Linked DNA regions of Homo sapiens: region 1 is linked to region 2. The links come from fine-mapping of genetic effects on gene expression. A gene starts in region 2. The other region holds a variant in brackets. All regions are shown on one strand. Distances are between the middles of the regions. Region 1 overlaps TBCD (tubulin folding cofactor D). Region 2 holds the start of FN3KRP (fructosamine 3 kinase related protein).

Region 1 (2,895 bases), 220 kb after region 2:
GCTGGTCTCGAACTCCCGACCTGAGGTGATCTGCCCACTTCTGCCTCCCAAAGTGCTGGGATTATAGGCGTGAGCCACCGTACCTGGCCTAAAATATTGACATATATTTTTCTGGCTTAAAAATTTCAAAATAAGCCTGGGCGCCATGGCTCACGCCTGTAATCCCAGCACTTTGGGAGGCCAAGGCGAGTGGATCACTTGAGCTCCGGAGTTTGAGACCAGCCTGGCCAACTTGGTGAAACCCCATCTCTACAAAAAATACAAAAACATTAGCCGGGTGTGGTGGTGCCTGTACGGCTTGGGCCTGGGAGGCGAAGGTTGCCGTGAGCTGAGATTGAGCCACTGTGCTCCAGCCTGGGCAACACAGCCAGACTCTGTTTCAAAAAAAAAATTTTTTTTCCAAGATAGGATGGTAGAGAAAATACCTCCTGCCATGTCCTGCTATGAATACAGCTTTGTATTTCTCTCTACAGTTTTGTCAGTTTTGGCTTTTCAGATTTTGAAGCGTGTTTGTGGGCTGAATCTTGCCCTTATCACCCATTTCTAGGATGCTTTTTGCTCCACTCATTCTTTGTCTTGCTTCACTTGACTTTGAACTGTATACTTTTTTCCATCGTTTTACTTTCAGTATCTTCATACATGTATGTTTTTGTACGCCTCTCTTAGAACAGTGTATGGTTTTGTAAAAATTCAGCCTGTAGCTTTTACCTGCCTCCTTCATGACCTTTATAATCCCCTTGGTTCTCAGCCTGCCACTCACAGGACTTTTCCCTGTGCTGCGTTCCCAGTGCCCCCTCCCCGCCCCCACCTGTGCTTTTTGTTGGATTAGTAGAATTGCTTTTGTCATTCCATTGTTTTCATATATTTGTTTGGGACATTTTACTTTTTTCTGTTAACGCTTACCCTAGAAATTAGAAATGACACCACGTATTCTTAGCGAAGTCCAGTTTTCAGCATTTTGTCCTTATTGGACAATAGCAAGGATATTAGAACGTGTTGGTTCCGCGTGCTTCCGTCTTGAGTTATGTGCTGCTATTGTCGGATATTTTGTCTTAGATGTACGTACTTTCCTGTTCATTGTGGTATGTGTAATTTGCGTTACTTTGAATTTTCCACGTTTTTACTTTCTTTGTCTCTCATCACTTACTGCTTTTGGGACCCCCCCCATCGGGGTTCACATTCCCTCTCCCTAGAGCACACTCCCTTGGATTTCCTCGAGTGGGGTCTGCTGCGGTGAAGCTTTCCCATTTTATGTGCAGATTATTTTCAGAGGGTATATAGAATTCAGGCAGCTGTTTCGTTGTAGCACATTAAAAATATTTTCCCACTTCCTCCTTGCTTCTGTTGTTGCTTTTGAGTGTTACCTCTGAGTCTGCCTGTGCTCCCTGGAAACGGCCCGGGTTTCCCACCCCCTGCCCAGGTTTGCTCCTTCC[C/G]TGGTTTTTCTGTCATTATCACGCTCACGTGTTTCCCTCGGTCACCCCCTCTGCAATTTTCACACGTCTTTTCCCTCTCTCTTTGCTTCATTACCTTTGGCCCGCCTGCCAGCTGCTGATTCTCTCTGAAGATGTCTCTAAATGACTTTTAACTGTGATTTGTGGAATTCTTATTGTGGAGTTTTGCGTCTTTTCAGGTGTAGGTTTTTTGTCTCGCGTGTTTCCACGTCTGCTTGTAGCGCTTTCCGCTTCGCCGTTCCCTGCGGCCCTTCCTTCCGTGCCCGGTGTTCATCCTCTTGAATGCTCTTTTCCTGCCTGTTTGGCTGGGTGTGTCTGAGTTGCAACCTGAGCGGGTTTCTTTGTCTTCTTACTTGTCTGGTATTGTGTTCTCTCGGGACGTTGCGTTTGAGGGGTCGCACCTCAGAGCAAGCCGAGGTCTGGGCTAAGCCTGTGCTTTGGCAGGCAGGACCTTAGTTTGCCTTTTCTGGGCACCTGAGGAGAGGGTAGCAGCAGCCTGGGGTCTCCTTGACTCACGGTCAGCAGTGAGGGTTTCCTGGCCTGTTGGGTGGCTGGAGCTTGGCTGCATTCCCCACTGAGAGAGGGAGGTGCGCACCTTCTCCTCCCTGGAGTGGCCTTCCAGGTGCCCTCTCAGAGCTGCTCATCAGGGCTGTGCCTTTGTCAGCACCAAGCCTCAGCCCTTGTCCCTGCTGCCACTGAAGGCTCAAAACAACACTGCACAGCCTTGTGTGTCCTCTGTGTGTCGGCAGTTTCCCCCGGCTCTGCAGCAGCCCAGGCCAGGTAGCCTCTGGAGGGAGTGGTGGAGGAGCACGGGCATCCTGGCCGCCGCTGTGTTGGGGACAGACCCTGGGGCCTGGAAAGGGAGGTGGGGCCCCGTGGGGGCTGCTGCACCACAGGCAAGAGAGCAAGAGACAGCAGAGGCCGGCCAGGTGGTGGCACAGCCGCTAGGGACCAGGCCGGCCTGTGGAGGTATTGGGATGGGGACCAGCGGACTTGCTGGCAGAGGGGCCTCAGGGCTGCAGGCTTCTTGGACTGAGCCACTGGGAGGACGGAGTTGACCTTCTTTGAGACAGAAAAAGTGTGCATCCCGGGGCTGCCTGTGAAAGCTCATCTCTAAAGTGTGTGTTGTTCTTCCAGCCACCCCTTTGCTGTGAAGTTGCTTGCGCTCTGTAAGAAAGAAATCAAGAATTCAAAAGATATCCAGAAGCTCCTGTCAGGCATCGCAGTGTGAGTTTCAAGTGCTGCTGGCCTTAGACGGAATGGCAGGGCGCAGCCTCCCTTGGCTGAGGGCAGGAGTCCACGGCTCCAGGCGGGAGAGGAGCAGTTAGTGTTACTCCTCAAGCTAACCTAAGATCGTGCATTCCAATGTTCAAAGCAGTCGCAATGGGAGGTGAGGCAGCCCAGGTGCTGGTGGAGGGAGTTCCCGCGGGAACAGGCGAGCTCT
Region 2 (2,895 bases):
TCCTGCCTCAGCCTCCCGAGTATCTGGGATTACAAGCGCCCGCCACCACGCCCCGCTAATCTTTTTTGCTTTTTAAAATTATGAAATGCGGTATACACACAGAAAAGTGCGTGAACACACACATATGTACCATTTAATAGATAGTTATAAAATGATCCGCCCGCCTCAGCCTCCCAAAGTGCTGGGATTACAGGCGTGAGCCACCGCTTCCGGCCTCAGGAGAGGATTCGTGTTTGCTTCTCCCAACGTCCAGGGAAGCGACATTTCCTATTTGCTTTAGACTAAAATCTATACTTGAATTTTTTGTTTACTGTAGGTAATATTAACTAGGGTTGCAGTCCGTGGAGGGCCGACTATGCGAACGGTTTCTATGAACCATCCTTTGCTGAAGGCTGAAACCTCTTCGTCCCCTGGGAGAGTTCCTATTCAGGCCTTCTTGTAGTTAGTTCATCCTTGTGTTGACAGCTGTATTAGGGTTCTCCAGAGAGACGGATCCAGTAGGATATAGACGTAGATCCAGGACAGGAGATGGACTGGGGGAGCTGGCGTTTGCAATTACGGAGGCCGAGAAGTCTGTGAGCCGGAGACCCCGGGACTCGGGTAGCCGGGCTCAGCCCAGGTCGGAAGGCCTCAGAAGCGGGGAAGCGGATGGTGTGGCCCTCAGCACGACCCACCCCAAATCATGCCTTGCCAGGTTTCTGGGAATTCCTGGTCCAGCCCAGCTGGCACCTGACACTGGCCGTAACGGCAGGGCCACTGTTAGCTGTTAGCCTCAGGGCCCCAGGTTTAGGGGCGGTGTCTCCGTTGCACGTGCACCCCGAGCGCGCCCGCCACTCCCCACATCAGGAGCTCTGTTCCTCGGGTTCAGCAAACGCCCGGGCGAAAGCAATCTTAACATTCTGGGCTCCCGGCACCCAGACCTTGGGCTGATGCCCCTTGCTAGTGGGTCAGCTCTTTAGAAAATATATTCTAACTATTTCCATCAGCATTTCCACTTATTTTGTGCAGGAGAGTTGAACCCAAACCGTCTGGGTCGGGGTCGGTCAGGCCCCGCCCCCTGACGTCATCTCACCCCCACCCAATCCCCCGCGCCTACCTGCCTCCCGGCCCCTCCCCTTCCCGCCCCTCAATCCCAGCGCTCATCTCTGCGGCCACGCCCGCCCCTTCCCGCCACCCAATCCTAGCGCTTGTCTCTGCGGCCGGGCCCCGCCCCCACCCGCCCCCCGCCCAATCCTCGCGCGGACTCATGTTTGCCCGCTCGGCCGCCGTCTCTCGAGTCTCCGCCAGATCCGGGGCGGGTCCGCGGCCGCGGCGGGAACATGGAGGAGCTCCTGAGGCGCGAGCTGGGCTGCAGCTCTGTCAGGGCCACGGGCCACTCGGGGGGCGGGTGCATCAGCCAGGGCCGGAGCTACGACACGGATCAAGGACGAGTGTTCGTGAAAGTGAACCCCAAGGCGGAGGTCAGGCAGCGGGTCGGGCGGGCCGGGGGACCGGTTTCTTTCCGGAGAGGGTCGCGGGCCTCGGCGCGGGGCGCGGCCTGGGCTTCTCCCGCCGGAGGCCGTGGGTGGCTCTCCCGGGACTGCCGCCGCCGCCCCTTGCGGGGAACCCTTTGCGCGGGGCGAGCGGTGAACGGGGGCGGCGGAAGCGTCCGGGGCGTCCGGAGGAGTTTGCACCTGCGGGGAACTGTCCGGAGCAGGAACCGCGGCCGCCCCACACCTCCTGTTCTCCGTGAACTTTCTCTCGGGGGCGCTACGTGAAATGGGGCGGGACTGGCTGCTGCAGTCTTGCTCCCGGGGTTCCTGCCCTGCGGTGCTGGTTAAGTGGGGTCGTTCTAGCCGGGGAAGCTGCTTAAGTCCTCAGCTTAAGTGACTCTGGAGGTGTCCATCCCCCGTGAGCCTCGGTCAGTACGTTGTGAAACGGGGCGAAGGTGCTGCCCCCAGGCCAGCTGCTGCGCCTCACCACACCCTGGCATGCTCTGTCCTTCTGTTAGACTCATTCTCGGGCCGGGCGCGGTGGCTCACGCCTGTAATCCCAGCACTTTGGGAGACAGAGGTGGGTGGAGCGCGAAGTCAGGAGTTCGAGACCAGCCTGGCCAACAAGGTGAAACCCCCGTCTCTATTAAAAATACAAAAATTAGCTGGGCGTGGTGGCGGGCGCCTGTAATCCCAGCTACTCGGGAGGCTGAGGCAGAAGAATCGCTTGAACCCAGGAGGCAGAGGTTGCAGTGAGTCGAGATCGCGCCACTGCACTCCAGCCTGCTGGGTGACTGAATGAGACTCCGTCTCAAAAAAAAAAGAGTGTTCCTAGCAGCGGTGACATGGCAGCTGTGGTGGGGCTCTGAGGCTGAGGAGGTGGGGACTCTGAAGAACTGAAAGAAGGATGAAGACAGCTGGAAGTCAGGAGCACGAGGAGAGTGTGTGTGTCTATGTGTATGTTGTGTGTGTGTACGTTGTATGTGTGTATGTTTGTAATGTTTGTATGTTGTGTGTATGTATTGTGTGTCTGTGTGTGTGTAAGGGTGGAGCCCCAGGTGAGGATGGGAGAGTGGGCAGGGCAGTGGTGTGTGTCTCAGGAGAAAAAGAAAGGCCGCTGGCCCTGACCTGTTCTGCGGGGATCACTGCTGTGTATGTTGTGTGTGTGTGTCTGTGTGTTGTGTGTGTATGGTGTGTCTGTAAGTCGTATGTTGTGTGTGTTGTGTGTCTGTATGTGTTGTGTGTGTGTTGTGTGTCTGTATATGTTGTGTGTGTGTGTTATGTGTCTGTGTGTGTAAGGGTGGAGCCCCAGATGAGGATGGGAGAGCAGGCAGGGCAGTGGTGTGTGTAGCAGGAGGAAAGGAAAGGCCGCTGGCTCTGACTTCTACTCTAGGGATCACTGCTGTGTGGTGAGCCAGGGGGA

Evidence for each region. PIP is the estimated chance that this variant, and not a neighbour inherited with it, causes the effect.
Region 1: its variant is the best candidate, but not a certain one, in a credible set for the expression of FN3KRP in monocytes after LPS (Fairfax 2014, PIP 0.62).

What each region holds. Positions count from the first base shown.
Region 1 is chr17:82,934,683-82,937,577 of GRCh38, forward strand. TBCD (tubulin folding cofactor D) reads left to right here. Exons shown (of 39, transcript NM_005993.5): 35 at 2,589-2,678. Among named protein-coding and RNA genes, the nearest start is that of ZNF750, 96 kb to the left of the region's middle. The variant C/G (reference allele first, on the strand shown) is at 1,434.
Region 2 is chr17:82,715,437-82,718,331 of GRCh38, forward strand. It overlaps FN3KRP (fructosamine 3 kinase related protein), which reads left to right and starts at 1,270. Exons shown (of 6, transcript NM_024619.4): 1 at 1,270-1,460. The coding sequence starts at 1,320. It overlaps LOC101929552 (a long non-coding RNA gene), which reads right to left and starts at 817. Exons shown (of 2, transcript NR_136400.1): 1 at 131-817. RefSeq lists silencers at 1,087-1,326, 1,347-1,426, 1,507-1,596.